Linked DNA regions of Homo sapiens. The protein of the gene in region 2 interacts with the protein of the main gene of each other region in a biochemical or structural test. Each region holds a gene or a part of one and is shown on either strand. Other genes may lie near its edges.

Evidence for each region.
Region 1: of the proteins of SRPK2 (region 2) and HNRNPC, one has a biochemical effect on the other in vitro, tested with the Homo sapiens proteins (2 studies listed by BioGRID and IntAct).
Region 3: of the proteins of SRPK2 (region 2) and PRPF38A, one has a biochemical effect on the other in vitro, tested with the Homo sapiens proteins (2 studies listed by BioGRID and IntAct).
Region 4: of the proteins of SRPK2 (region 2) and LUC7L, one has a biochemical effect on the other in vitro, tested with the Homo sapiens proteins (2 studies listed by BioGRID and IntAct).

Annotation. Positions count from the first base shown.
Region 1 is NC_000014.9:21,223,582-21,232,220, forward strand, and holds part of HNRNPC (heterogeneous nuclear ribonucleoproteins C1/C2), read right to left. Parts: intron 7,492-8,639; coding exon 7,416-7,491; coding exon of another isoform or gene 7,377-7,415; intron 6,786-7,376; coding exon 6,738-6,785; intron 1-6,737. UniProt on the Homo sapiens protein: Binds pre-mRNA and nucleates the assembly of 40S hnRNP particles. Interacts with poly-U tracts in the 3'-UTR or 5'-UTR of mRNA and modulates the stability and the level of translation of bound mRNA molecules. Single HNRNPC tetramers bind 230-240 nucleotides.
Region 2 is NC_000007.14:105,114,865-105,120,551, reverse strand, and holds the end of SRPK2 (SRSF protein kinase 2), read left to right. Parts: intron 1-2,529; coding exon 2,530-2,714; 3' UTR 2,715-4,178; downstream 4,179-5,687. UniProt on the Homo sapiens protein: Serine/arginine-rich protein-specific kinase which specifically phosphorylates its substrates at serine residues located in regions rich in arginine/serine dipeptides, known as RS domains and is involved in the phosphorylation of SR splicing factors and the regulation of splicing.
Region 3 is NC_000001.11:52,406,784-52,415,422, reverse strand, and holds part of PRPF38A (pre-mRNA-splicing factor 38A), read right to left. Parts: intron 6,855-8,639; coding exon 6,733-6,854; intron 5,938-6,732; exon of another isoform or gene 5,920-5,937; intron 4,309-5,919; coding exon 4,223-4,308; intron 3,982-4,222; exon of another isoform or gene 3,901-3,981; intron 2,910-3,900; coding exon 2,799-2,909; intron 1,545-2,798; coding exon 1,432-1,544; intron 803-1,431; coding exon 776-802; intron 662-775; coding exon 564-661; intron 86-563; coding exon 37-85; intron 1-36. UniProt on the Homo sapiens protein: Involved in pre-mRNA splicing as a component of the spliceosome.
Region 4 is NC_000016.10:204,419-213,057, forward strand, and holds part of LUC7L (putative RNA-binding protein Luc7-like 1), read right to left. Parts: intron 4,247-8,639; exon of another isoform or gene 4,183-4,246; intron 3,771-4,182; coding exon 3,660-3,770; intron 1,730-3,659; coding exon 1,586-1,729; intron 1-1,585. UniProt on the Homo sapiens protein: May bind to RNA via its Arg/Ser-rich domain.

The DNA.
Region 1 (8,639 bases), on a different chromosome or scaffold from region 2:
CTACTAAAAACACAAAAATTAGCCAGACATGGTGGCATGTGCCTGTAGTCCCAGCTACTCAGGAGGCTGAGGCAGGAGAATTGCTTGAACCCAGGAGACAGAGGTTGCCGTGAGCAGTGATGCGCCACTGCACTCGAGCCTGGGCAAGAGAGCCACATCAGGTCTCAAAAAACAAAAAACAAACAAAAAAGACTAATAACTGATTTGTTCCAAAAGTGTATACTAATCTATGTCACCATCTAAAATCCTTCTGGCACCTATATGTATGATACACAGGTTCCCAAAAGAAAGATATAATTAACAGTGGAGCTGTGAGCAAATCCAAAACTTCCAAGCCCAGAGTACCCTCTCCACCTAAAATGACACCTCTGAGAGTCATCTGTTAGCTTTTCAAAGTAGCCTAGAAGTCTCCTGCTCTGTGAAACACATGCCTTTCAATGCAGAATGTCCCCAGTTTTCAAACTTCAAATAACCTAAGTATTTTGGCACTCTCTCCCTTCATACATATATATAAACAAACCCATCTCTCAGGTACAGTGTTACTCAAAAACATCTGAAAAATAGAAAAGGAGGTCAAAGTGTCTGCTAATCTAAACTCAGTAAGGTGAAGGTTCTCCTTCAACCCATATTGTTAATCCAAAGCCTCAGGCTTTGTGTGCCCAGAACAAAATTAGGGATATTAACTATTAATAGTTGAAGAAATGATGGTTTGACAGTTCTGTCTTGAATTTCAATGGTTTCATTTCAACTAATTTTCTCTCTCTACCAAGATACATTCCTAGAAAAGTCAGGTAGAATAAAACCAGCAGCAAAATTGCTTGTCTCCTTGAAATTCTGACAGCACAAACTCTGTGAAACCCCCCTTCATGTAACCATTAATGGCATAATCTATCATCTAGTCACGAAGACAAAATCTCAGCTTTTGACTATTATTTTCCTACAAGCACCTACTTTCATACCTTTAGTCCAACCAATCACATCAAGACCAATCTACTTCAGAAATTCTCCCAACCTCCTCTCCATTCCAACATTTACAATGTTTACCATTTAACACATCTTTTTTCCTCTAGCCACAGGCCTGTTTCTAAAATACCATCTATAGGACACAATCCCAGAACATGTAATACAAAGCCCTTTACAACTAACATTCTTTACAATTTACTTTACAGCTGGCTGCTCCTCAAACACATCAAGGCCCCTCACAACTCAATCTTTGTTACATGTGTCATCTTTGACCTGTGAGTTCTTGAAGATTTGTCTATTTCTAATGCACTGACATATTAATATATTTAGCCATGGAGTAATAACAGCACTCTGAAAACCTCTAAGAATTTCATACTCGTTACTTATATACTGTATTACTAGTCATGCACCACATACAAAATGTGCTAAGTTTAAAAAGTCCTCAGAAAGACCATTGAACTAAACCAGTCTTTTTGAACCAGGTTTCTTGCTCACCAAGTCTCCGCTGTCATAATAAAGCCTGTTATCAAACCTGCCATTTATTGGCAGTTTCTATTTCGTGTTGCCCAAAGTTCTCCAAATAAGAATTAAAGAGGCCAGGAACGATGGCTCACATCTGTAATCCCAGCACTTTGGGAGGGCGAGGTGGGCAGATCACCTGAGGTCAGGAGTTTGAGACCAGTCTGGCCAACATGGTGAAACCCCGTCTCTACTAACAATACAAAAAAAAAAAAATTAGCCACGCATGGTGGCAGGCACCTGTAACCCCAGCTAATTGGGAGGCCGATGATGCACAAGAATTACTTGAACCTGGGAGGTGGAGGTTGCAGTGAGCCGAGATCGAGCCACTGCACTCCAGCCTGGGCAATAGAGCAAGACTCTGTCTCAAAAAAAGGAAAAAAAAAAACAGAGAGAGATGAGACGACTCAAGAAAAGAGCTGACAGTAAATCAGTCTCTATGAAGGCTAGCAAGATGTCCCACAATGACTGAGAGTTCTTTTAATTCTAAAAGGTGTCCATCCTCAGGCGTAAGAGTTACCTTTTGAGGCTGGTAGCACCAGACGGGTTTCATCTATGTCTCTAACTGGCAAGTATCCTGATGTAGGTAGGGTCCACGAGATATGACAAAAAAGAATGACTGTCCATAAGACAGTGATGTATCCTTTTTCAATTGTAATGTCGCATCCATTTTCAATCAAAACGTCATTCACATACCATAAAATTCACCATTTAAAAGGGTGCCACTCCGTGGTTTTTATTAGTTCTGCAATATCACCATTATCTAATTTGAGAACAATTTCATGGGTGATCAATTATAAGGGAAAGTGGGGTTCCAATTTATTACAATCTGAAGAAAATATATCTAGTTTATATCTAGATATAGTTTTAGTATGAAAACACTGCAGTATTTGTGGCACAAATCAGAAAACACATATAGATCAAGACTTTTATGAGAATTTTTTAAAGAATTATAAGAATAGTGCCAGGTTGGGCCAGGTGCAGTGGCTCATACCTGTAATCCCAGCACTTTGGGAGGCCAAGGTGGATGGATCATGAAGTCAGGTGAGGAGTTTGAGACCAGTCTGGCCAACATACTGAAACCCCATGTCTACTAAAAATACAAAAAATCAGCTGGGTGTGGTGGTGTGCACCTGTAATCCTAGCTACTCAGGAGGCTGAGGCAGGAGAATCTCGAGAACCTGGGAGGCGGAGGTTGCAGTGAACCGAGATCTGCACCACTGCACTCCAGCCCGGGAGACAGCACGAGACTCGTTTCCAAAAGAAAAAAAAAAAAAAAAAAGAAAGAAAGAATAGTACCAGGGTAGCTGTTGACGAACATCAATTTCATGTATATGCCAGCCTACCTAAGGACTTAAAGATCTATTTTTAGAGTACTTCCCAATCTCGCTTAATTCAACAACTACAGCTTTGAATACTTGTGCATTCCCAACATTGTGATAAAAATTCACTTTTATTACAACACCTTTCGCAAAACAAAACCAGCGCCTTCAAATGAATATTAAAAAGAGGGCCAGGCGTAGTGGTTCACACATGTCATCTCAGCACTTTGCGTGGCCAAGGCAGGGAGATCCCTTGAGCCCAGGCGGGTGGACCACCTGAGGTCAAGAGGTCAAAACCGGCCTGGCCAACGTGGACAAACACTGTCTCTACTGAAAATACAAAAATTAGTTGTGTGTGGTGGTGCACACCTGTAATCCCAGCTACCTGGGAGACTGAAGCAGGAGAGTCGCCTGAACCCAGGAGGCAGAGGTTGCAGTAAGCCAAGACCAACCCACTGCACTCCAGCCTGAGTGCCAGAAAAGACTCCATCTCAAAAAAAAAAAAAAAAAGGGGGGGGGGGGACAGTGATTTTTACTCCGATTTACATATGAAGACCCAGAGCTTTCACTCAGAGCCAATTTCCCATCTTCTTTGATTAAACAATTTAACATAGTCAATGAAGTATCGCTGTTACCATTTAAAATAAAAATCTAAACCTTATGATAATGAATCTTCAGAATGACTTCTTAGAAGATATTAATACCATTTTTCTAAGTTGTTATTCCACCAGGTCATACCCAACCTATTTCCCAGGTCCAAATTGACCTAACATTTTCCAAACCAGCAAAAAACTCCTGTATCTGCCCCTCTCCCCACTAAACAAACACTCCTCCTCCTTTCACCTTCATTAACATCTATCATGTAAGACACACACTCAATTCCTCAATTCTCCAACCCAACTTGAGTAAGTTCCCATCATGTGGACACCTCCTAAAATTCATTTTCCCAACAAAGATCTCAGTACTCTAAAAGTCAGCTCTTTGCCAGCTATTACCTAGTTGCTCCACTAGTTATCAGTAATCATTATCTACTGGCTGACGTTAGAACAATAGAAGACATTACTTTTCACTGACAATAACATGCAGCAATATATCCGACAGTAACTACTAGTATCGGCTGGTGCAAAAATAATTGCGGTTTTGCTTTTTACCGTTCAAAGAAATGTCAAAAACGGAATTACTTTTGCTCAAACCTAATATATTGTTGTCTATTGAAAATCTGAAGAGGCCACCAATTTCTGTGAAGATATTTCTGCAAACGTGATTTCTTTAGATTTCTCTGCAGTATATATCTCATTGTCTCAACTAATGTTTTCCAAATTCCCTGCTCAAATTTTCAAATTTCCCCATTCACAATGTGCCTTGCCAAGAAAAGACTTTTTAATGAGAACTATTTTCAAGAAGACTGTCACTGTATACTGCTAAAACTTGATACACTCATAAAAAACATCAACTAAGAGTCCATGACATCCCTGAAATTATACCAACAAAAGTGTGAGTTTATTAAACTGGTCTGAATTGAGCCATGACAAAGAAATAGGATAATAATACACAGAAACACAACCACGTCCTTAATCTTTTATTAATGATTCTCAACTCTGACTGGACAAAAGAACACATAGAAAGCACTGAAAAATATACTAGTACTTAAGAAAGTCTGCATAAGACCAGTTGTGTAAGAATCCCTATAGGAGAAGCTGGCATGAGTATATTTTAAATGTGGTCAAGCAATTACCATGTGCAGAAAGGGTTAAAGGGCAGATGCTTCAGACAAACTCACTGGGTTTCAGTGCCTTCAAGACACCTGACCAATAATTAACCCATCTATGCCTAATGTTCCATTACTGGAATGCTAAGCTTGTCGGAGTTATTTATATCCTACTGCATTAGGTCATTACCAAGGTCTGATTGCAAAAATTCAAAAAATTGCAATTTCAGGAATAAATGGGCTGAGTTCACTAGTAATGTCCTGATTTATTTTCAACTGGAAGTTCTCCATTGATTTTTATTTTGTTTTATTTTTTGAGAAGGAGTCTCACTCTGTCACCCAGGCTGGAGTGCAGTGGCGCGATCTCAACTCACTGAAACCTCCACCTCCCGGGATCAAGCAATTCTCCTACATCATCCTCCTGAGTAGCTGGGACTACAGGCGCGTGCCACCACGCCCAGCTAATTTTTGTATTTTTTTAGTAGAGACGGGGTTCCACCATATTGCCCAGGCTGGTCTTGAACTCCTGACCTCATGATCCACCTGCCTTGGCCTCACAAAGTGCTGAGATTACAGGTGTGAGCCACCGTGCCCAGCTGATTTTTATTTTTTAAGAATTTCAAAAATTTCAACAAAAATAAAAATGAAGAATTACAGAACTCCTTAGTTTTCAAAATGTTCACACATAACTGTAAAAATCTGAGGAAAGGGCTGGACACAGTGGCTCACACCTGTAATCCCAGCACTTTGGGAGGTCAAGGCGAGTAGATCACCTCAGTTCAGGAGTTCGAGACCAGCCTGGCCAACATGGTGAAACCCAGCCTCTACTAAAAATACAAAAATTAGCCGGGAGTGGTGGTGCATGCCTGTAACCCCAGCTACTTGGGAGGCTGAGGCAGGAGAATTGCTTCAACCAAAGAGGCGTATGTTGCAGTGAGCCAAAATCACGCCACTTCACTCCAGCCTGGTGACGAGAGGAAAATTCCGTATTTAAAAAAAAAAAAAAAAAAAATCAGGCCAGGCGTGGTGGCTCACGCCTGTAATCCCAGCACTTTGGGAGGCCAAGACGGACGGATCATGAGGTCAGGAGATCGAGATCATCCTGGCTAACACGATGAAGCCCCGTCTCTACTAAAAATACAAAAAATTAGCCGGGTGTGGTGGCGGGCGCCTGTAGTCCCAGCTACTCAGGAGGCTGTGCCAGGAGGCGCAGCTTGCAGTGAGCCAAGATTGCGCCACTGCACTCCAGGATGGGCGACAGAGCGAGACTGTCTCAAAAAAAAAAAAAAAAAAATCTGAGGAAACCGCTAATGTCAAATGAAAAAAACATTTTGATGATGCATTAATGATGCTCAACCACACCATTTTATTATGGCATTCAAGGCCCTTTACAATCTGGATTTGAATTCCTTTTCGGGCCTTACTCTTCTGGCCTTCTAATGACTACGTACCATATTCTGTGAGGTTATTTCTCAAACAGAAAGTCTATACTTTCATGTCTGACACTTTCAGTGTATACTTTATGGTATTTAACGGCTGACTTGATTCCTTTACAACTCCCATGCATGACTGATTAACTCAGTTCAAATGTTAAGCATTCCCCAATCAGTAATTTTTATTCCAAAATCAGACTGAATTGTTATATACAGTAATAACATTAAAATACTAATGACTGGAATACTGGCATTATAAGACAAATAGTATATAAAGTAATATGCTTTATATATTGCATGTTTAAAGTCTATTGCATACAATAGTTTGCTCCATATACTTACATATACTGCATGAGTTTGAACGCGACAAGCCAAATAAGTCTTAACATTTCCTTCATGTTAACTGAGACTGATGTTATCAGAATGTCAATGTGGTAACACTCTTAAGCACATCATCCTATTTCCTGTTAAGCATTTGCTATCAACAGTTCTAAATCTGTTACCCAAAGCCACCCATAACCCAGTCCCTAGTCACCACACTCAGCGAATTTTTTTGTATTTTTAGTAGAAACGGGTTTCACCACGTTAGCCAGGGATTATGAAATAATGCATTAAAATCAGTATCACCCTACCTAATAATCTACTTAATGATTTAGAAAAAGGTGTTTTTTTGTTTTGGAGTTAGGGGAGTATGTTTGAAAACATCTTTGATGTTCATCACCACAAACCAGAAGAACGAAATGGTTCTCACTAAATAGCTGTTTAGCAGAAATACAAAACATTTTAACATACCTATCATAATAGTCCCGTTGAAAGTCATAGTCCAAGTCAAAAGAGGAGCTGAAAAATAAATACCGAAAAGGGTTAATTTGGAAATGTTTCTACTAATTCACAATGTCAGGTGAGGGGAGAACCATGCCAAATAAACCACAACAAATAGATCAACAAGATTAGCACTGAATGATCCCCAATCATTCATACAATAAATCACTCAATTCCAATCACCTTAGACCACTGGAAATGTAGCGGTCAAATTGGAAATTCAGGTTAAAATTCGCTAAGATTTCCACATACGACATAGCTAAACTAAACACTGAAAAACAGAATGGTAAACTAAGCATTCTTATACCACACTTCTACCCTCTCTTACTCTCTAGTGTCTTAGAAGCTCAACGATCCTGTATAAGTATTTCAGGTTATGCTATAAATATCAAACTACTCTTTAATATCAATAGCAAAAACCTCAGGGATTTTTAATTCTCTAGAAATTTTCTCTAGGGCAAAAAAGAGACATATTAACACAAAAATAATAAAACCTTATTTATACACAGATAAAACACAGTACACTTAAACCTCCCCACACCCAGAAAACAGAAAGAGAAGATGCCCACTGATGGACACAATGCAGTTATAAATAATAAAGTTCCGGACCTGAGTAGAGGGGACGGAGAAGGGTGTTCTGTTACTGACCCGTACATCTCCGCTGCAGATCGTTTCACACCTGCTTTTCCTCGGTTCACTTTTGGCTCTGCAGCCAGGTTAATATCTGAAAAACAAAAGTAAAAATGTTAATGACAACTTTGTATCCGGGTAAAACAAACTACAAAGTTTATTTTTTTTATTTTTGAGACATAGTTTCGCTTTCTCGCTCAGGCTGGAGTGCAGTGGTGTCACCTTGGCTCACTGAAACCTCTACCTCCCGGTTCAAGCGATTCTCCTGCCTCAGCCTCGAGAGTAACTGTCACTACAGGCGGGCACCACCATGCCCAGCTAATACAAACTACGAAGTTTAGAAAATCACACAGACACATAAATTAGAAAATGTGGAACAAAACAACTCATCTTTCCTTAAGACACTGTCTCACTGTCATACAAGCTGGAGTGCAGTGATGCAATAATGGCTCAATACAGCCTAGACCTCCGAAGCTCAGGTGATCCTCCCACCCAAGTAGCAGGGACCACCACGCCTGGTTAATTTTTCTATTTTTCGTAGGGACGAACTCTTGGGGTCACGTGATCTGCCTTGACCTCCCAAAGTGCTGGAATCACAGGTGTGAGCTATCAAGCTCAGCTTCATCTCTCCTTTTAATATTAAAAAGGCTCACAAATTTTTACAAGGCTAAGGCTTCATCTTCCGTTTCTTTGTAGTCTGTTCTTTACCATTCAAGTGTTCCTGAGACTAACATTAAGTCTGTCTTTGGTACTCTCCACCCTCAGATACCACTTCAACTCAACTCTCCCCATTCAAGGTACTGACTGTTCACTCAGTTACTATTACAAGAGAAAACTATCACTGGTTGCCTTTCCAAGAATGGTTCAGCTCATTCCGAATTATTACAAATATATTAGAATGAAATATATTAAAATATATGCCAATTCACAAATTAACATAGTGAAGTGTGACAACCTCAAATCATCCTCAAAGGCAACTTCAGATTTTCTTTATAAGTAAGGATTAGCTGTTCTACACGTAAAATATCCTGGGTTAACGACTGCTTTCTGAATAATTGATCAATTGCTTAAACAACCTTTACACACACCAAAAAAAATAAAAGAGCAAAGGGAAACAACCCTGGTTTTCAAATACAATTTGTAACACGTATGCCCAGCTACCTACCCTGCCACCCACTGCCTACCAAACAAGAATTTATCTTCTCCTTGTTCTAAAAAGCCCATGTCAAAAAGCCAAAAACT
Region 2 (5,687 bases):
TTGCACAGTCTTTACCTTGTTAAAAGTAGTTAGATATTTTACTGCTCCTTGCGAATATTTTTACCAGTTTATAGTATGCCTAGTTATGGATGAATAGTTTCTCATGGCCTTTCACTATTATATTGTTTTGCTCACTGTTACTATGCAGCTGTTAAGCATTTATAGTGGTAAAACTTCTCTTTTCATGGAAGATTGTACTTAAAAGATGCCTTGTTGATGGATCTTAGTTTAACACCTGGCGCCTCAGAAATAGGTTCCTTTACTATTCTCAGCACACAGTGCTTCTCTGTAGTTACCTATATTTGCAAACCTGGAGAGTATTTTTTCTGAGATAGAATAGATTCATGTCATAAAAGTTCGCTCCCTTTCCCAGAGAACTTGGTTTAGTCACATGTGAGCTTTCTTAGTTTGCTTTAACTGTTGCTGTGGTGAGATCAACAGTCTAAATCAATATAGTCATATTACAGAAAATGTGGAAATTGAAATAACCTACTAACAAAAGCTGATGTTTTGATTCAGTTGATTTCCATCTTAATGAGCATTTTAATAATCTTGTGATTATCTGTAGGACATAGTTTGACTGTTCTTTTACTGCCTAATGTTGTACCATGATCTTCTCCCATGTTGTTAAGTAATATTAAATACTATTAAGTGAATCTACCTTGGTTTTCTTTTAACCACCATTTTACTATTACTGGCTCTTCGTAATTTTGCGAGTACATATAATTTTGTGCCAGCATATATTAGGCATGAATTTGGGGTGGTGCAACCAGGGTTTATCTCCTTGGGCTGGATTCCTAGAGCCGGAATTTCAGGCTTAGAGGGATAAACCTGCAGTCTCTGTTCAGACTTTGTTTTTATGGAGACTGTGTTTCCTTCAACAGGAGATCCTTTCCCGCCTCTAATATTACAGGTTCATTTCTTCATCAACACAGACCTGATGTCTAGTCTGGATGCGATGCTTTACTCTAGCTCCAGTCCTCATATTGGAAACAGAAGCTTATTTTACATCTCAGCCCCTTTAGCAAGCAGCCCTCTTAAAAGATTCTTTATACGGAACCCTGTGCACAGCATGATTGCAACTTTGTAGACATACTAGTGTGTAAGAACACTCTTCACAATAGACACAAAAGAAGAGCAGTTGTGGGTAGGATTGTAGGCTACTTCCCCTTTTGTTCTTATACTTTTCTGTAATGCTCTTTCCTTTTCATTGTGTTTTTAAACGGGAGGGCTTTTCCAAGTTGACTCGAATAAATGGGTGAAACAGAACAAGCCTCCTGAGAACACCTTTGTGAGCAGAGCACTGATTATCTATTGATGCATCTCATGAAAAAAATGTACCTTGTTTAAATTAAAGCAGTTGAAAGGGGAGAGAAGTCAGTCCTTGCATGAAGTGTGCCCTGCAGGTGCTTGAATGCCTCTCTCCCCCCACCGAGACCTGGCTGCTCTGAGGTGTGGGCACAGGGGGGTGTTTCCTCTGCAGAAGCTGCTCAGGATGCACTGAGGGGCACCTAAGGAGGTCTGTGGGCAGGGGTGGGATGTCCTATGAAAACTTCAAACAGGCAGAGAAAACGAGTTATTCACAGTGAAATTATCTGGAGCTTTTGACAGTTTATTGCCTTTTTGAAAAGGTTATGGGGAGACAGGGTTTCGCTTGCTCTGTCCCAGGATGGAGTGCAGTGGCATGACCTTGACTCACTGCAGCCTTGACCTCCTGGACTCAAGCAATGCTCCTGCCTCAGCCTCCTGAGTAGCTGGGATGTACCACCGTGCCCAGCTACTTTTTTTCTTTTTAAGTAGAGACAGGGTCTGGTCTATGTTACCCAGGCTGGTCTGAAACTCATGGGCTCAAGGGATCCTCCTGCCTCAGCCTCCCAAACGGCTAGGATTGCAGGAGTGAGCCACTGCCCTCAGCCCTTTATTGCAGTTTTGACTTAAAAATAACCTTTTTTTTCTCTTATGAAATGACCATTACAGCTCGTAGGCCATTTACTAGCTTGTTAGTCATTCTGTTATGTCAACCAAAGCTGCCTGTAACCGACACTTTTCATACTGCAGCTAGCACAGTTTGTGAAGTATAACTTCAAGGTTTACAAATTAATGTCCTAGGATCTTAGATCTTACAACAAATGCGTAGACATGAATGGTGTTTGATTTGGGTTGGCCTCAAGTTTGCAAATTTTACGGAAGATCCCAGGTTGAAATGAGAGTGGCTTGCTTCAACCTTTGGAAAAGAAAACACTCTGGGCAAACTGAGCCCACTCCACTTACTTAAAGAAGCTTAGAACTAATGTGAATGAACTATTAATTAACCTCTATTTAGATCCACCAGGCTTACTTGAAATATGCCTTGGTCATATGTACATGTAATGATTATTGCTTAGTGGGGAAAAGCTGGTGTTCTTTGTTGTTGCTGTACAAGTGTTGAGCAGGTGGTTGTCCGCTTCACTGAAAAGAACCTGACTGGACCAACAATGGGGAATGCAGATTTGGAGCTTTCTTGACATTGGCCTGTTTTTTCCCCTGTAGGAGAACTGCGACACATCACCAAGCTGAAGCCCTGGAGCCTCTTTGATGTACTTGTGGAAAAGTATGGCTGGCCCCATGAAGATGCTGCACAGTTTACAGATTTCCTGATCCCGATGTTAGAAATGGTTCCAGAAAAACGAGCCTCAGCTGGCGAATGCCTTCGGCATCCTTGGTTGAATTCTTAGCAAATTCTACCAATATTGCATTCTGAGCTAGCAAATGTTCCCAGTACATTGGACCTAAACGGTGACTCTCATTCTTTAACAGGATTACAAGTGAGCTGGCTTCATCCTCAGACCTTTATTTTGCTTTGAGGTACTGTTGTTTGACATTTTGCTTTTTGTGCACTGTGATCCTGGGGAAGGGTAGTCTTTTGTCTTCAGCTAAGTAGTTTACTGACCATTTTCTTCTGGAAACAATAACATGTCTCTAAGCATTGTTTCTTGTGTTGTGTGACATTCAAATGTCATTTTTTTGAATGAAAAATACTTTCCCCTTTGTGTTTTGGCAGGTTTTGTAACTATTTATGAAGAAATATTTTAGCTGAGTACTATATAATTTACAATCTTAAGAAATTATCAAGTTGGAACCAAGAAATAGCAAGGAAATGTACAATTTTATCTTCTGGCAAAGGGACATCATTCCTGTATTATAGTGTATGTAAATGCACCCTGTAAATGTTACTTTCCATTAAATATGGGAGGGGGACTCAAATTTCAGAAAAGCTACCAAGTCTTGAGTGCTTTGTAGCCTATGTTGCATGTAGCGGACTTTAACTGCTCCAAGGAGTTGTGCAAACTTTTCATTCCATAACAGTCTTTTCACATTGGATTTTAAACAAAGTGGCTCTGGGTTATAAGATGTCATTCTCTATATGGCACTTTAAAGGAAGAAAAGATATGTTTCTCATTCTAAAATATGCATTATAATTTAGCAGTCCCATTTGTGATTTTGCATATTTTTAAAAGTACTTTTAAAGAAGAGCAATTTCCCTTTAAAAATGTGATGGCTCAGTACCATGTCATGTTGCCTCCTCTGGGCGCTGTAAGTTAAGCTCTACATAGATTAAATTGGAGAAACGTGTTAATTGTGTGGAATGAAAAAATACATATATTTTTGGAAAAGCATGATCATGCTTGTCTAGAACACAAGGTATGGTATATACAATTTGCAGTGCAGTGGGCAGAATACTTCTCACAGCTCAAAGATAACAGTGATCACATTCATTCCATAGGTAGCTTTACGTGTGGCTACAACAAATTTTACTAGCTTTTTCATTGTCTTTCCATGAAACGAAGTTGAGAAAATGATTTTCCCTTTGCAGGTTGCACACAGTTTTGTTTATGCATTTCCTTAAAATTAATTGTAGACTCCAGGATACAAACCATAGTAGGCAATACAATTTTAGAATGTAATATATAGAGGTATATTTAGCCTCTTTTAGAAGTCAGTGGATTGAATGTCTTTTTATTTTAAATTTTACATTCATTAAGGTGCCTCGTTTTTGACTTTGTCCATTAACATTTATCCATATGCCTTTGCAATAACTAGATTGTGAAAAGCTAACAAGTGTTGTAACAATAATCCATTGTTTGAGGTGCTTGCAGTTGTCTTAAAAATTAAAGTGTTTTGGTTTTTTTTTTTCCAGACATTGCCTTGGTCATTGCCCTATAAATGATAGAATCAATGAACATTTGCTATCAGAGTAGTGTCACTAAAACTAAATACCAGCATTCCTGTTGCAGCAGATGTAGTTGTAGAACATGCATTGAGGCGTATTATAAGGAAATCATTTATTGTTTTTTAAGGGCAGAAGGGATTTAGGAGAAAAGCTACAGTATAGATTGATTCTCTAGAATATCAATGATCCCTTTTCATCCATGGTTCATCAAAAACATACTAACTGCATTTGTTTGATCATTGCAAATTTAAAACAAAACAGCATTTGCTGTTAGGAAACAAGACACATAATCCTCTTAGGAATTACCATTATATCACATTACCACTGTGAGGTAGAATGGATCATTCATTAATTTCTTTATGAAATTTGCATGCTAAGTTTTTCTAATGAGGCTGTAGGTTTCCATGTAAATTCTGTGATAGATAGTGGCTGTAGACTGGTGATGCTATCCGTGATTTCTATGAGAAACATCCTTACAAGAACCATAGGGCATAATTTATATCTTCCCTAAGTGTAAAAGGATTTTTATCAGGGTGATAGTATACTTGAATGAAATTTGTCTAATGCAGTTTTTGCTTATGTTGGAAAATAAACTAGATTATGAATTTTTACAGGTGTGTCCCTTATGATAAAACAGCCTAACTAGTTTATAATACAGAAACGGTTGTTCTAGAAGGAATATACATTTGTATTAGGCATAATATGGCTTTATCAGATTCTTGGCGGCTTGTTGATAAAGAATGCACAAAAACTAAATGAGAACCACTGGTTATGCTAAACATTATAACTAGCTCTCTGACTTCAATTGAATGTCCTATCTATCTTTTCCTTTCTGTAGTCCATGTGAAATCTTCATGGAAAATGACAAGCAGTGGATCACATATGTGTTTATAGCAGATACAGGAGCTGGCTATCTAGAAGTTGGCAGACAGAACTGCCCAAAGGCAGAGAAAAGGTGGATATAAGATCTTCCGAGTCATAAACTTCTTAGGTGAAAACCGATTTACTAACTTGCTTCTTCCCATACCTGGACCATACATAACTAGTTACCACGATAAAGTAAGGAAACTTTCCATTGGAGTAGAGAACTTCTTCAGTTTCTATCCATAGTTCAGGTTATTTCCTAAATTCTCCTTTTTTCTCCCCCTTTTAAATAACTTGAATGAAATTTTGGTAGAAGACTGTATTTTAGAGTATATACTTCATCAAGGAATCAAAATGTATAAGATTCTGCAGTTCACACAAAAGCTTCTGTATGCATATTTCTGTAGTAGGCACATTTCAAGCCAGTGAAGAATTTAAAATGCTTAGAAGGACAAACCTTTTAAGAAGAATATTTTTATTTCACATGCTAGTTACCTTTATTCTGTTTGAAACTATCAGGATAGATGATGTAAAACCATTTCTTCTCAGACAAATGTTTCTTTACTAAATACCATAAATAGAATTTTGTTGGACAAATTGAGGATGGCAAACT
Region 3 (8,639 bases), on a different chromosome or scaffold from region 2:
ATTTCTGTAAAGTTAAAATAGAGGTCAATTCATTACCTTTCGGGAGACTTTGAGTGGCTCCTGTGTCTGTGACTACGGTGATGACCTGGGGAAGAAAAGGCCATTGCATAAGATCCTACCCTTCTACTCTTATTAAACTGTCATTCTCACCTCCCCTAATACCTGCCATTGGCTTAATATTCTTTTGGCCTATGCAGGGGACACCTCTTAGTGGAAGCAACTCTGAATTAGTGGAGGAAGAGGGAGCAAAGAAAGTAGTAATGAAACCAGTTCAAATACATATACATTCAAGGGCTTTATGACTAATTTCACAAACATCATATTGGGTTTTCACTATTATGTTAGATCTTATTCCTCCAATTTTAGATGAAAAAACTAAAGCAAACCTTATCAGCAAAGCTTATAAGTGACAGTCAAGCTGTGAACCTTAATTTTCAAATTCTATGTCCATTTGCTTTTCTGTTAGGCAGTACAGTCAGGCACTCCTGTACTGCAGGAGGCTAACTACTCCTTTTACATTTCTTTGTTAAGACAACCTGTGGCAAAAGGCCCACAAGCTTTACCTGGGGACTTGGAACGGGATCTGTGCCGCCGATCTCGGGACCTGCTGCGGTGACGTCTTGGACTCTTGCTCCGATGCCTTTCTCGGCGAGGGGAGGGGCTGTAGAAAAGACTGGTCAGACTACCAGATCTGGTTAGCAATATACATATAACACCAATACCACCACCCCCTCCCCAAAGCCCTATCCTTCATCACAAATGACTGAAGGCCTACCTTCTCCTTTTGGGAGATCGACTCCGCCTATAAAGAGGAGAGGAAGAAGAAAGCCTAGGTTGGCGCACTGGATGTGGTAGATTGCAAAAACGGCCCCAATCTTATCCTTCACGCTTCTCTGTATCACCCACCTCTGTATCCATGTCTTTTGTCACGTAACTCTAGCACCCTCCCATTCTAACTTTAGGACTGGTGACATGACTCGCTTTGGCTAATGAGATATTTGCAAATGTGATAAAAGCAGATACTGGAAAAACATTTGCATGACCGGGTTTGTTTGCTCTTGAGTTCTGCCACTACCATGAGAATATGCCCAACTTAGCCTGCTAGAGGATGACACAGAGAAGAGAAATTTCCCCCGTCATCCAAGCTAAGGCAATTCCATACCAGCCAGTAGACAGCCGACAACAGAACAGGTACTTTAAAAACTGCCTATCCAAGCTCTGCTTAAATCATTGACTGCAGACTTGTGAAAGGAACAAATGGTTATTGTTGTCTGCCAATGAGGTTTTATAGGTGGTTGTTTTGCAGCAACAGATAACTAATATATTGGGCAAACATTCTCCATAGACGTGCATTTTTCCTTCTCTAAAATCCAAACTTCTAGGCTACAGTGCTCAAAATCTTCTGGGAAAAGGCCAATGACTAGGCTTTACCTTCTGGGAGACCGGCTCCTACTCCTCCTGTAGCGCAGTGTGGGAGAGCGACGGGGCTTGTCCAAGTCTCGGTAGCTTCTCCGGCGGTGATCAGGTGATGGCACTCTTTCCAACTGGAAACAAGATGATTGGGTCATTGAAAGGCACAGGCTTATAAAGAGCCATCTAGGAACACTAATTATACTTCACGCCCCATCTTGTCCCAAAGTCCATCTCCATGTGACTTTAAAGCACAGTAACCTGACTACAAAGAGGGAAGCACTTACCCTATTAACTAACAAAACTTATTATGAGCTATATAAGACAGCCAAAATGACTCATAGGAGAGGGAACAGAAACAGACCTGTGTGTGTGTATGTGTGTATGTTTAGTTTATCTGCAGCCTGGGCAACATGGTGAAATCCCATCTCTACAAAAAAAATACACAAATTAGCCAGGTATGCTGGCACGTGCCTGTAGTTCCAGCTACTTGGGAGGCTGAGATGGGAAGACTGCTTGAGCCTGGGAGGCCGAGAATGCAGTGAGCCACTGCACCTCAGCCTGGGCAACAGAGCAAGACCCTATCTCAAAAAAAAAAAAAGTTTGCTTCCTGGAACAACTGGGCAGCTTGGTTGTTTTCAACTTTTCAGCACCGTAACTAGTACTGAAAGAACATGACTATGCGGTTGACATTTTCCCCCTCCTAAACAAGGTTTATTCCTTAGGATAGGTGCAATTATGAAAGTGTTCTTTCTTTCCAAGTATTTAATAGCTGCCACCATTTATTAGGCAATTATAATGTGCCAATACTCTGCTAAGGGCTTTAAGTTTATAATCTTATTTAATACTTTTAACAGTCTTGGGGAAAAAAGTATCATTAACCTCACTTTACATAGGAGAAAACTAAATTTAAGTAATTTGCGTAAGATTATACTACTAGTATATGGCAGAGCTGAGGTGCTTTTAATAAGGAAATATTGTTTTTGGCTAGAGTTAGAAAAAAAATTTTTTTTGAGACGGAGTCTCACTTTTGCCCAAGCTGGAGTGCAGTGTTGCGATCTTGGCTCACTGCAACCTCTGCCTCCCGGGTTCAAGCAATTCTGCTGCCTCAGCCTCCTGGGTAGCTAGGATTACAGGCACCCACCACAACGCTGGCTAATTTTTGTATTTTTAGTAGAGACGAGGTTTCACCACCACGTTGGCCAGGCTGGTCTTGAACTCCTGACCGCTGGTCATCCACTCGCCTTGGCCTCCCAAAGTGCTATGATTACAGGCTTGAGCGACCACGCCCGGCCAATAGAGTTAAAAATTAAAGTCTAAAAACAAAAAACCATTCCCATTTTCTATTACTCCCTCCCCTACAACCATAAAAGTCTCAGGTGCCAGACCTTCTCATCCTCCTCTTCTTCCTCTTCACTGGACTCCACATCATCCATGTCCTCTTCCAGAGCACTAACTCGAGGCTCCAGTTGCTCAGCTTCCTCTAATACATAGCGTTTCTACAGAGAAAATGATGAGAGTTAGGGGTTGTTGCCATTTCCCCTATTTCTTGAAACCTCAACACTGGGCTTCAGGGTTCCAAGGAGCAACAGCTGAGGCAATTTCATTTCAAAGACAGTTCAAGATTTTCCTAACAAGTTTAATAGACCTGAAATCTATAAAGTTCTCCTATAAACATAAATACAAACCTGAAGAGAACATCTTCATTTTCTATTGACTCTATTCCCTGTACCTTATACTCTAAAGTCATGGGAATATCAATCAGTATAGGTACAGCCTAGAACCAAAAGTAAGGGCTTCACACACAGAGAAAATCCAAGGGCTAATAAGTTCATGGCTGGTAGTTCCACTAGAAGAGGCCTAGCCCTAGAGTAGTACCAAATCTCCAGTAGACCCAGGATCTCGGGAGCTGTTGATATTCATGCATTTTGAACTGGTTCCATTTTAATCTGGGATATGGCTTAGCAATGTTTATTTGAGTGGCTAAGGATCAGAGAGGCAAAGCTGATTTCAAAAATGCCAAATGGCTAAATGTAGTGGCATGTACCCGTGGTCCCAGCTCCTTGGGAGACTGAGGTAGGAAGATCCCTTGAGCCCAGGAGTTTAAGAACAGCCTGGGCAACACAGCAAGACATTGTCTTGCTATAAGAATTGGGCCCTCAAAGTAGGTTTTCAAATTTATAATCTCATTCTTTCCACTACATGCCCTACAGTGCCAACATGGAACAGGAGAGCTGTATCACACTCATTTCCTGAAAAGATGCCTCATGGATAATCGTTTATCACTAGGAAAGGGAAGCAGGATGGTGAAGGCAAGTTTAAGGAATTAATGGCTCAGTCTCCCACTCCTGGCCCTATTTTTATCTGTTTTATGTCCTGGCTTTTTACATGAAGATTAGTTTAAAAAAAACGTTCATGAAGTTAAAAACTCCCTACCTACTCTAGCTACAATACCCTTGATGTAACATCCTGAATAAATTTCTTTTTTCATGATAGACAGGTAATGTGCTGACTTTGTAACAAGGTTTGAGGGAGGCACAACTCACACATGCACCTGAACTACAAAAGGATGGAGAAAAACAAAGTTTCCTTGTTTTAAACCATTCACTTTTAAAGCCCTACCCTTCAAATATTTTATCTATTTTCCTCTCACTCCCAATCCACTATCTTGGGACTCCCAGACAGGAAGACTATTCATTAAGAGGACCCATAAGATCCACAGGCTTCAGTGTTTAAGCTGTGTGTATGTGTTTGTCTGTCTGCCCGTCTAGGAAGAGAAGGGTGACTCTGGTAACAGACTTTTATTTCTTACCTGTAGTCGGGGCAGAATGATATCACAGACTCTCTCACTGTGCAATAGTTCATCAATAAACTCATCAACATGCATCAATTCAAACTCTGCAAGAAAAAGTCATTAGAGCAAACAACCTGGAAATAAAAGATTTAGATGCCAAAAAGTAAAAGAAGTGTTAAGACTTCATATCAGGACATCTATGTGCTAGGCCTCTTTAGAAGAGATTAAGGGATGAATGAAGATGTCCCAATTAGCAGGAGACAAACACAAAAACAAGCACAAACAGTCCTGAATTATGTAGGGATGATCTTGAAGAGATCATATAACTTAAATATAATTTCTCATCTGAACCTTCAATGTTTCTGAATTTAGAACATGTATCTTATATGGCACATGGAGTGATAGCTTTTGAGAACTGGCTAGGAGTGGTGGCTCACGCCTGTAATCCCAGCACTTTGGGAGGCCAAGGCAGGCAGATCACTTGAGGTTAGGAGTTCAAGACAGGCCTGGCCAACATGGCGAAACCCCATCTCTACTAAAAACACAAAAATTAGCTGGGCATGGTGGTGGGCACATGTAATCCCAGCTACTCAAGAGGCTGAGGCAGGAGAATTATTTGAACCTGGGAGGCAGAGGTTGCAGTGACCTGAGACCACACCACTGCACTCCAGCCTGGGCAACAGAGTGAGACTCCATCTCAAAAAAAAAAAAATTATATGTCTATATATATGTGTGTGTGTGTGTATATATATATATACATCTATATATATATAAAAGTATCATTAACCTCACTTTACATAGGAGAAAACTAAATTTAAGTAATTTGCGTAAGATTATACTACTAGTATATGGCAGAGCTGAGGTGTTTTTAATAAGGAAATATTGTTTTTGGCTAGAGTTAGAAAAAAAATTTTTTTTTGAGACGGAGTCTCACTTTTGCCCAGGCTGGAGTGCAGTGGTGCAATCTTGGCTCACTGCAACCTCCGCCTCCCGGGTTCAAGCAATTCTGCTGCCTCAGCCTCCTGGGTAGCTGGGATTACAGGCAATTTATATTATATATAAATTATGTTATATATAAATTATGTTATATATAAATTATATATGATTATGTATATTTATATATTTGTATGTAAATATAATTATAAAATGTATATATATGTGTGTGTATATACACATATACAAATACATATATATACATACATACATATACATATATAGCTTTTGAGAACTTCCATGGTAAACATTACCTTACTTCTGGGGTTCTCAACCATGGGCAATTTTGCACATGCCCATCCCCCTACTTAGAAGGAGGTGTTACTTCCATCTAGTGGGTAGAGGCTAGAGATACTGCTACTCATTCTATGATGCACAAGCCAATCCTCACACAAAAGTTATATGACCCAAAATGTCAATAGGTTCAGAAATTCTTAGTTTTACGTAATAAAATAATAAATAAATAACTCCATCATGGCCATGACCATGTCCATCTTGTTCACCATGGTATTTACACCACATAGCACAGTATGTGACATGTCAATGGCACTTAATATGTATTTATTCAATGAATGAATCAATAAGTTTAAAGTATAATACCAAATTCTATTTTTTTAAGATGGAGTCTTGCTCTGTCGCCCAGGCTGGAATACAGCGGCGTGATCTCGGCTCACTACAATCTCCGCCTCCTGGTTCAAGGGATTCTCCTGCCTCAGCCTCCTGAGTAGCTGGGATTACAGGTGTGCACCTCCACACCCTGCTAATTACTGTAGTTTTAGTAGATATAGGGTTTCACCATACTGACGAGGCTGGTCTCAAACTCCTGACCTCAAGTGATCTGCCCATGTTGGCCTCCTAAAGTGCTGGGATTAGAGGTGTGAGACACCGTGCTTGGCCCCAAATTCTTAACCTTCTACTGTTTAATGATACATGTAGGGGGAAAGGTAAATGTTCCTATCTTCTGTTATGACACCAAGTGAGAAAAGGTTTTGACTGCATTACCTGGAATCCCTCCTTAGCACATTAAGTAATCTCCTTGTAGAAGGTATGGAGCTGCCTCTCTTGGATATACTTATTTTTCAGTGGGATTCCTGTATAAAAATGAGTAGTCTTATATGCTGCAGTGTGAATTACAGTGTTAGAGGAGAGGCCAGTAGAAAGAACTGTGAAGATGTAAAATATGGAAAACTAATTTTGTCTGAGAGGGCTGGGGAAGGTTTTTATGGAGAAGCCATTCTGCAGCTAGATCTTTTGGGATGGAGCACATGTAAAGGGGGCATATGATGCAAGGCAGGGATTAACATAAGATGCACTTGGAAAGGGAGACAGACAGAGGCAGGCTGGGTAAGGCCAACACGAAGCTAGTAGTCAGACTGAAAACTCCCATGAGGGACAAGGGAAAACCTGCATAGAGACAGTAACAATGTAGATGAAAAGGAGCATTCACACTGTCTATGACAATGCAAAGGTAGAAGTACTGGTAAAATAAAAACTGGCTTAAAAATGACAATCAGGAGACTTAGCACCATACTTACCCCCATTTCGGTTCTGGCTCTTGATTTTTCGATAGTCATTGTACAAAGGTTCCAAGTACTTGTAGCAATCAATTGCAGTGCCTGTCAGCCTCATGTAAAGTGCCCCCAGCATGCGGACATACCTGAGAGACAGATGACAGTGAAACAACAGGCCATCCTAGAAGTTCCTGAGTTTTACAACTAGCTGTTCTCATGACAGTAGTGGATAAACATGTTCTTCTCTTTGGCAGGTAAGAAAGCTGCAATTGTGGAGGTAGAATGCAGCAGAAGAAAGACAGCTAAAATATGGAGACCTGAGTTCAAGTTCCCATGCTACCATTTATGGCTGTGGGAACATCATACATATTGATCAACTTTCAAATATATCATCAGTAAAACTAGAATAAAACCTATTTACCTCACAGGATTACTCTAAGAATCAAAAGAAATACTGAATTTTATTTTATTTTTTAAGGCAGAGTCTTGCTCTGTTGCCCAGGCTGCAGTGCAGTGGCACGATCTTGGCTCACTGCAACCTCCGCCTCCTGGGATCAAGCAATTCTCATGCCTCAGCCTCCATGTAGCGAGGATTACAGGCGCCCGCCACCATGCCCAGCTAATTTTTGTATTTTTATTTATGTATTTATTTATTTCTTGAGACAGAATCTTGCTCTGTTGCCCAGGCTGGAGTGCAGTGGCACGATCTCAATTCACTGCAGCCTCCACCTCCTGGGTTCAAGCGATTCTCCTGCCTCAGCCTCCCAAGTAGCTGGGATTATAGGCATGTGCCAACACACCCAGCCTAATTTTTGTATTTTTAGTAGGGACCGGTTTTGCCATGTTGGCCAGGCTAGTCTCAAACTCCTGACCTCAGGTGATCTGCCTGCCTTGGCCTCCCAAAGTGCTGGGATTACAGGTGTTAGCAACCATGCCTGGCATATTTTTGTATTTTTAGTAGAGACGGGGTTTCCCCATGTTGGCCAGGCTGGTCTTGAACTCCTGACCTCAAGCAATCCACCTGCCTTGGCCTCCCAAAGTGCTGGGATTACAGGTGTGAGCCACCACACCTGGCCATATATTGAATTTTAAAACAGAAAGAAGATATATTTAATAACAATACAAGAACAAGTACACATAAACATGACTGCTGGTTTTGGAAAAAAGTAAGTCATCTGGGTTCAAATTCTGACTCCGTAATTTACTAAGTCTGTGACACTACTGGTCAAATCATGTGTTTTCTCAATCCTTGTAAAACGGAGATAATGCTACCTAATTTATGGCTTGGTATATAAACAAGAAATGCATTGAAAGTGCTAAGTATAGCACAGAGCACACAGTAAGTGCCTAACAAAAGTTAGGTATTTTCTAGCTGTTAATGCTTTATTAGAGTCGTTCCAGCCAGGGGCGGTGGCTCACGCCTCTAATCCCAGCACTTTGGGAGGCGAGGCAGGTGGGTCACCGGGTCAGGAGATCGGGACCATCCTGGCTAACGCGGTGAAATGCCGTCTCTAGTAAAAATACAAAAAATTAGCCGGGTGTAGTGGTGGGCGCCTGTAGTCCCAGCTACTTGGGAGGCTGAGGCAGGAGAATGGCATGAACCCAGGAGGCCGAGCTTGCAGTGAGCCGAGACTGCGCCACTGCACTCCAGCCTGGGCAACAGAGCGAGACTCTGTCTCAAACAAAAAAAAGAGTTGTTCCTCTTCCCTTTTTCCTATATCTAACTACTTAAATTTCCTCTTGGGTAACTAGGAGGCTTTTGAAAGTCATAGTTTCTTTGTACGAGAAGCAGAATACTGTAGCAAAGAATATGAACTCTGAAGCCAGATTTGCCACTTACTAGCTGTTTGAACTTGGGCAAAATTAATTAATCTCTGTGCCTCAGTTTCCTCTCCTGTAGAATAGGGATTAAAAGTTTAGAAGGTTGTTGT
Region 4 (8,639 bases), on a different chromosome or scaffold from region 2:
CCATCTCTACTGAAAGTACAAAAAAATTAGCCGGGCGTGGTGGTGGGCGCCTGTAGTCTCAGCTACTCTGGAGGCTGAGGCAGGAGAATGGTGTGAACCGAGGAAGCGGAGCTTGCAGTGAACTGAGATCGCACCACTGCACTCCAGCCTGGGGGACAGAGCGAGACTCCATCTCAAAAAAAAAAAAAAGAGAGAAAATTATAAGGAAGAGAAAATAAAATACATTTATAGTACTGTGCTGTACTGATCACTTCTGTACGTTTACACTGCTCATTTACAAGATGAATTGTCCGTCTGAAATGGTAGCAACTGCAGCTGCAGACCTCAATCTAATGTATACATCAAGCAACTCAACTTTTTCTTGTAATATCATGGCTGTTCTTGCCTTCTTGGGAGCATTTTCAGCATCACTAGTGGCATATGGATCCTATGGCATTACTCAAAGTTTATGGTATTGCACTAAACACGATGAAAAACGCCTAGGAACCCTGTGAGTTCACTTTTTACTGCAGTAGGAATGTACTGGAGAGGTGAACTGCTCCTTCGGAGATGATGAGTGTCACGTGGTGTTTCAAGGGGATACTCACGACCCTTGAGCTCCACACAATGGCAACAGGAAGTGGCATGAATTATTACAGTAGTACAGTACCTATTACAGTTATTCTTAGGCAGCCCTGATTTAATACTGCACCTCTGCACTACGTTTGTTAACATCTCTCTACGGCGAATGCTGTCATGTATGGTCTGTAAGCGTTTGCATGTAGCCTCTTCTTTTTTAGAGACAGGGTCTTGCTATGTTATCCAGGCTGGACTCCAAAAGTCCTAGGATTAAGGGATCCTCTCATCTCAGCCTCCCGAACAGCTGAGACTAAAGCCAAGAGCCACCATAGCTGGCCATATGCTTAAGTTTTGACAAATGTTACCTTTTCATAATAGACTTGTGTATATTTTATGGCAGTAAATAAAAGACTAGTATCCTCATATATTTTATGTATTCATGACATACCTAACATTTTCTGCAGACTTTGGGTGATAATGACAAGTCAACGTAGACCCACTGACTGTGGGCAGATGCTAGGAATGGAGGAGGCTGTCTGAGGAGAGGGTACATGGAGAATCTCTGTACTTTCCTCTCAATTTAGCTATGAAGCTAAAACTGCTTGCAAAAACAGCGTTTATAAATTTTTTTGAGACAGAGTCTCGCTCTGTCGCCCAGGCTGGAGTGCAGTGGCGCAATCTCAGCTCACTGCAAGCTCCGCCTCCCGGGTTCACGCCATTCTCCTTCCTCAGCCTCCGGAGCAGCTGGGACTACAGGTGCCTGGCGCCATGCCCGGCTAATTTTTTTGTATTTTTAGTAGAGACGGGGATTCGCTGTGTTAGCCAGGATGGTCTTATCTCCTGACCTCGTGATCCGCCCGCCTCGGCCTTCCAAAGTGCTGGGATGACAGGCGTGAGCCACTGTGCTGGGCCCAAAATGTATAAATTTTTTAAAAAATGGGAGCAAGCATGGGCTCAATTAATTCCAACGGTCAACGCTGCCAAATTACTAAGATTTCTCTTGCCCTAAGGCACTTATCTCACCAACCTCAGCTTCTTTTTTCTTCGCACGAACTTTTTCCACTTCCATAAGAATCTTCTGGGATTCATCCACATTACCTTCAGCCCCTAGCTGTTCGGCTTTAGCAAGGAGTTTTCCTATTTCTTCATTTAACTCATGTACTTTTTCTGCCTGTGAGGAGAAAGAATGAGGTAAGCAGACATCTGAAAATGAAAGTGAATGCAAAGGCAACAAGGGTTTCTCCTGCTCCATTTCCAGTCTGAAAATAAGTGGAAGAGCTAAAGATCCACACTTAACAATGAAGGCATCCTTACTGCCAGCATTGAGACTGTAACCATAAACGAGTCCTATGTTCCAATGAAACCAGTGGCACCTTTGTCACTTCCGACATGCTTCCAAGGATCATCACAGATTGGTCATTGTCTAGGCTGTCTCTCTTTATGACTTTTTCTTCTGGGTATGGTAATAAAATGCCTAGGTTTAAATGTACAGATTTAAGCTGTAACCAAAATACCTAATTACTAGGATTTACCTTCTGAAACAAAATAGCACCGTTGGTCAAATTAGCAATTGCATAAATCCTAAGAAATGCTTTTACAACACTGAAAAGAAAAAACAAGGAGAGGCTTAGTTCCACTGAAGAGAAAAACAGAAGAGTGATGTAAATGGCACTCAGTCTAATTACATATAAATCTACCTCCTTTTCATTCTATGATATGGATGTACCACAGTTTGACCATTTCCTTACCAATTCTTTCCAGTTTTATGTGGAGATATTAAAGTTTAAAACAACATGCAGAGGCTGGGCATGCTGGCTCACACCTGTAATCCCAGCACTTCGGGAGGACAAGGCGGGAGGATTGCTTAAGCCCAAGAGTTCCAGACCAGCTTGGGCAACAGACTCCATCTTTATTAAAAAAAAAAAAAAAAAAAAAAAAGATGGCTGGGTGCAGTGGCTCATGCCTGTAATCCCAGTACTTTGGGAAAACGAGGCGGGCAGATCACGAGGTCAAGAGATCGAGACCATCCTGGCTAACACAGTGAAACCCCGTCTCTACTAAAAATACAAAAAATTAGCTGGGCGTGGTGGTGGGCACCTGTAGTCCCAGCTACTCAGGAGGCTGAGGCAGGAGAATGGCGTAAACCCAGGAGGCGGAGCTTGCAGTGAGTCGAGATCACGCCACTGCCCTCCAGCCTGGGCGACAGAACAAGACTCTGTCTCTTAAAAAAAAAAAAAAACCGACAATAATTTTTTTTTCTTTTGAGGCAGGGTCTCACTCTGTTATCCAGGCTGAAGCAAAGTAGCATGATCACAGCTCATTGAAGCCTCAATCTCCCCAAGCTCAAGTGATCCTCCCACCTCAGCCTCCTGAGTAACTGGGATACACATGTGCACCACCAAGCCTGGCTAATATATGTATTTTTTGTAGAGATGGGGTTTCTTCATGTTGCTCAGGTCTAAAACTCCTGGGCTCAAGCAGTCTGCCCCCACCTTGGTGTCCCAAAGTGCTGGGACTACAAGCATAAGCCACCAAACTCAGCGAAGAATATATTAAAATTAAAAAATAATGATAAACCATGTACAGAGGACGAAAATGGAGAGAATAAAAAGACAGAGGTAGCAGCTCCTGAGGGATGAGAATTCCATGACACATGAATGCTTGATCACAGCCCTCTATCCTTAACTGGAGTAAGGCAGAGAGTACTGTCCACACAATCAGTGCTGAGGGTCAGTTAATAGCTATTGACAACGCCGGGCGCGGTGGCTCACGCCTGTAATCCCAGCACTTTGGGAGGCTGAGGCAGGCAGATCACGAGGTCAGGAGATCAAGACCATACCGGCTAACACGGTGAAACCCCGTCTCTACTAAAAATACAAAAAATTAGCCGGGCATGGTGGCGGGCGTCTGCAGTCCCAGCTACTCGGGAGGCTGAGGCAGGAGAATGGCATGAACCCGGGAGGCGGAGCTTGCACTGAGCTGAGATCATGCCACTGCACTCCAGCCTGGGTGACAGAGGGAGACTCCATCTCAAAAAAAAAAGCTATTGACAAGCCAGTATTTTTAAGAACACACCAGACACCGAAGCCACCCAAGCATACCTTTGCAGAAACTTCCGCACTGATTTCCTCCTGTGTTTCTGCCAGCCGCTTCTTGGCGAGCTCAGTTCTCCGATCACATTCAGCAATAAAGGACTCCAAGTGATCCATTGCCTAGCACGGGAAAAGCACAGCGCTATAATCAATGATGTGTAAAGCGTAAAGTCTTAGAACCCATTTGCTTGATAGGAAATACACTCCTAGGTTCGTTTCTTTAAAGCCTGTACATTCAAGGGAAAGATCTTAAACTACACTACCACTAACGCATTCATAATTGCATTAAATCAAGGGGATCTGTTAAACAGAATGATTGTTTGGAAGCATGGTCTTCTCATTTGATTTACTTATTTCCAAAATTTGTAAAAGGACCTCCAACCCTCAATAACATTACAAAGAAATTCTGAGGAAAATTAAAACACTTGGCAGCAATTCATAGAGTTCTCGGAGGGACAGAAAAGGCTGAGCCTAGACTCGTGCTGGAGGCCCTCTTCTGGGGAGTTGTGAGAGATGCATATGATGTACTCACTGGTCTTTGTGAGCCACGTAAATATTATTCCCTCATGTTCTGAGGGTAGGGTCCCCCCTTTCACCTCAAAAACAAAACAATAGAACAAATATTACTGAGAGCTATGAATACATTTTGTTATTGCCTACTATCTAAAGTAGCAGGAAAAATTGGTTGCTATTTACCCAAAGAGATAAAGGAAAAGAAGCTGTAGACGTCAAATTGCTTACTCTGAAAAGGGTGGTGGGAAACATTAAGAGAACTATCATATGCTAAGGTTAATTCACCATAACTAGGCAAAGGCTAACATAATTTCAGATAAAAACAGAGACAGGACCGGACGCAGTGGCTCACACCTGTAATCCCAGCACTTTGTGAGGCCAAGGTGGGCGGATCATGAGGTCAGGAGTTCAAGACCAGTCTAGCCAACATGGTCTCTAATAAAAATACAAAAATTAGCTGGGCATGATAGCGGGTGCCTGTAATCCCAGCTACTCAGGTGGCTGAGGCAGGAGAATCGCTTGAGCCTCGGAGGCAGAAGTTGTAGTGAACTGAGACCAGACCACCACACTCCAGCCTAGGCAACAGAGCAAGACTCCGTATCAAAAACAAAAACAAAAACAAAAAAAGGCAGGGCCCAGTGGCTCACACCTGTAATCCCTGCACTTTGGGAGGCCGAGGCGGGAGGATCCATGAGGTCAGAGGTTCAAGACCAGCCTTCCCAATACAGTGAAGCCCCATCTCTACTAAAAACATAAAAATTAGCTGGGCGTGGTAGCATGCACCTGTAGTTCCAGCTACTCAGGAGACTGAGGCAGAAGAATCGCTTGAACCTGGGAGGAAGAGGTTGCAGTGAGCCGAGATGGCACCACTGCACTCCAGCCTGGGCAACAGAGCAAGATTCCATCTCAAAAAAAAAAAAAAAAAATAGGGCATCACTTTTCCGACTGTCAGCCAGTGACCAGTAGTAAGAAACACTAACATTAAACCATGAGTCAGCTTGCTAATGTCAGCATCATGATAAACATAAATAAGTTTGTTTTGCAATGATGACAAGGTTAGATAGCATGATCTTTTACCAAAAACTAAATTTTAGGTGGAGATGAGAAGGCAGATGACAGGAAAACACTAAGGGGTGATAACCTAAGTCACCGCTCCTAAAACAGACAGGAGACAGTAGGTCAGCTGTAATAAACTGCTCCACAATGGATTACACAGACACTGGAGAAGATTGTGATCTTCTCTAGAAATCTTAAATATTTTTTTCAAAAACATGCATACTTGGGAGTAGGTAAGATAGGGAAGAACCTCCAAGTCTCCTGGTGCCCAGTCTCCCAAGAAGCTGGAGAAAGCACAAGCAGCATCACTGATGAAGGCTGACTCCCAGATATCACTCCATAATTTTGGAATTCAAAAACTGCCTCTTGGCCAGGCGTGGTAGCTCACGCCTGTAATCCCAGCACTTTGGGAGGCCAAGGCGGGTGGATCACTTGAGGTCAGGAGTTCGAGACCAGCTTGACCAACATGGAGAAACCCCATCTCTACTAAAAATACAAAATTAGCCACGAGTGGTGGTGCATGCCTGTAATCCCAGCTACTTCGGAGGCTGAGGCAGGAGAACTGCTTGAACCTGGGAAGCAGAGGTTGCAGTGAACTGAGATCGCGCCATTGCACTCCAGCCTGGGCAACAAGAGCGAGACTCCCTCTCAAAAAAATACATAAACTGCTTCTTGTTGGTCACCCAGATATTCTCTAGTCAACATTTCAGTATGTTCAAATCAAAGAATCAGGAAAACAAATGATCCGGCATTTGACTGCTTCTATGCACCTGTACACTGGACTTTCTGGAAAGGTGAAGAGCTGGCTGGAGCTCATCAGGATCCAAGTATTAAGGAGCTGACAAGGGTCACTGTGCCTTCTCTTCTGTGCTTACCTCAGACAACAGCCCCTAACAGACCAGTCTGAGATGCTCCAGGTTCACCCACACAGTGGCCCTGTACTGTCTGCTCAAGCTGAGCAATCAATCACCAACCTGAGACAGATTCAGGGATTCACTCGAGGGGTCAAATGGGAAATAGGCAGCTGACAACTCTCCCAATACCTAAACCCATCAAAGCAATTACCTGCACCTTAAGCAGAATCCAAATTGGCTATGGACTCAGATGTCTGATAACCTAAAAACTAAATGGTGGCCGGGCGTGGTGGCTCACGCCTGTAATCCCAGCACTTTGGGAGGCTGAGGTGGGCGGATCACGGGGTCAGGAGATCGAGACCACCCTGGCTAACACAGTGAAACCCCGTCTCTACTAAAAATACAAAAAATTAGCCGGGCGTGGTGGCGGGCGCCTATAGTCCCAGGTACCCGGGAGGCTGAGGCAGGACAATGGCATGAACCCGGGAGGTAGAGCTTGCAGTGAGCAGAGACTGTGTGCCACTGCACTCCAGCCTGGGTGACAGGGCAACACTCCGTCTCAAAAAAAAAAAAAGAACACTAAATGGTAGGCCCAGCACGGTGGCTCACGCCTGTAATCCCAACACTTTGGGAGTCTGAGACCAGCCTGGCCAGTATGGTGAAACCCCATCTCTACTAAAAATACAAAAAATTAGCCAGGCGTGGTGGCGGGCACCACTGGTTGCTATTTACCCAAAGAGATAGAGGAAAAGAAACTCTAGACGTCTAATTGCTTACTCTGAAAAGGGTGGTGGGAAACACTAAAAGAACTATCATATGCTAAGGTTAATTCGCCTTACGAGGTGAATCCCAGCTACAAGGGAGGCTGAGGCAGGAGAATCGCTTGAACCTGGGAGGCGGAGGTTGCAGTGAGCCAAGATCACGCCACTGCACTCCAGCCTGGGCGACAGAGCAAGACTGGCTCAAACAGAAAACAACAACTATAAATGGTAAACTTCACAACAGAGAACAAGCCAACCAAGAGCTGCCAAGTTCTTTAAAAGGTGGCTTTCTGTTCTACTGCCCTCTCCCTTCAAAGTGTTTCTCAACTTTAGCCTGTTTCTTAAAAGAGCAGATCTAAATGATAAAAAAAAGACATTCGATTCCAAAAATTAAGTCCTAATCACAACCTACCACTTACTAGAAAGTCACCCAATCTCTCTCTATCTCTGAGTAGCGTTATGAAACATAAACCCTAAAAGCCCCTGAGCACAGACAGCACCAGCACAAAGACTTGTGTCCTAACAGTATGGCAAAACTGGACAATATCAGCACACGTCATCTCCACTGAGGAGGCTGTCCCTCCACACACGGACTGCCTGGTGCTGTTACCAGCTCTCCCGGCCCAGCAGCACTGACACAGGCCGGTGGTCACTGAGCCTGAGAAAAGCCCATGATGTCAGTCAGAACTGTCACAGCAGACAGGTGCCCTTGTGCTGCACTAGGCACGTGCGCTAAACACCTCCAAAGAGCCGCAGAGGGGCCGGGCGCGGTGGCTCACGCCTGTAATCCTAGCACTTTGGGAGGCTGAGGTGGGTGGATCACCTGAGGTCAGGAGTTTGAGATCAGCCTGACCAACAAGGAGAAACCCCATCTCTACTAAAAATACAAAATTACCCAGGCGTGGTGGTGCATGCCTGTAATCCCAACTACTCAGGAGGCTGAGGCAGGAGAATCACTTGAACTCGGGAGGCGGAGGTTGCAGTGAGCTGAGATCGTGCCATTGCACTCCAACCTGGGCAACAAGAGCGAAACTCCATCTCAAAAAACACAGCCGCAGAGGAGCTCGTCGGGTCTCCATTGCATGGATGATGAAAGTGAAGCACAGCTACCAAACCACTAAGTAAGCAATGGAGTCAGGATCCAAGGACCCTTGTGGTCTGGCTCCAAAGACCTGCACTTCATCCTCACAAATCTGAGGCAGCCATCGTCAGCCCAGTTTATAGATGAAAAAAAGAAGGTGAAATAACTTGCCCAGGGTCACACAGGGACTCTAACTCAAGACATTTGACCTAGAAAAATGTCACTCTTATACTGGACAACTGTAAGACAGGAAAACTACATACAATCAGAACTGGTCTCATGTGGTATATTAAAAACAGCTTTGAAATGAGCCCATATATGTTGTTTTGAAAACTTTTCAAAACATCACATGGCCAGACAACATGGGAGTAAAGGTTAATTACACTTTTGGTGAATTACAAAGACACATTCATTACATTTTCAACATGTGAACACTAAAGAAATATACCTTTTTTTTTTTTCCCGAGAGGATCTTGCTCTGTCACCCAGGCTAGAATACAGTGGCACGATCACGGCTCACTTTAGCGTTGACCTCTCAGGTTCAAACCATCCTTCCACCTCAGCCTCCAAAGCAGGTAGGACTATAGGAACACGTCACTACACCCAGCTAACATTTCTGATTTTGTAGAGACTTTGCCCAGGCTGGTCTCGAATTCCTGGGCTCAAGCAATCTTCCGGCCTCTGCCTCCCACCAAAGTACTGGGATTACAGGCGTGAGCGCACA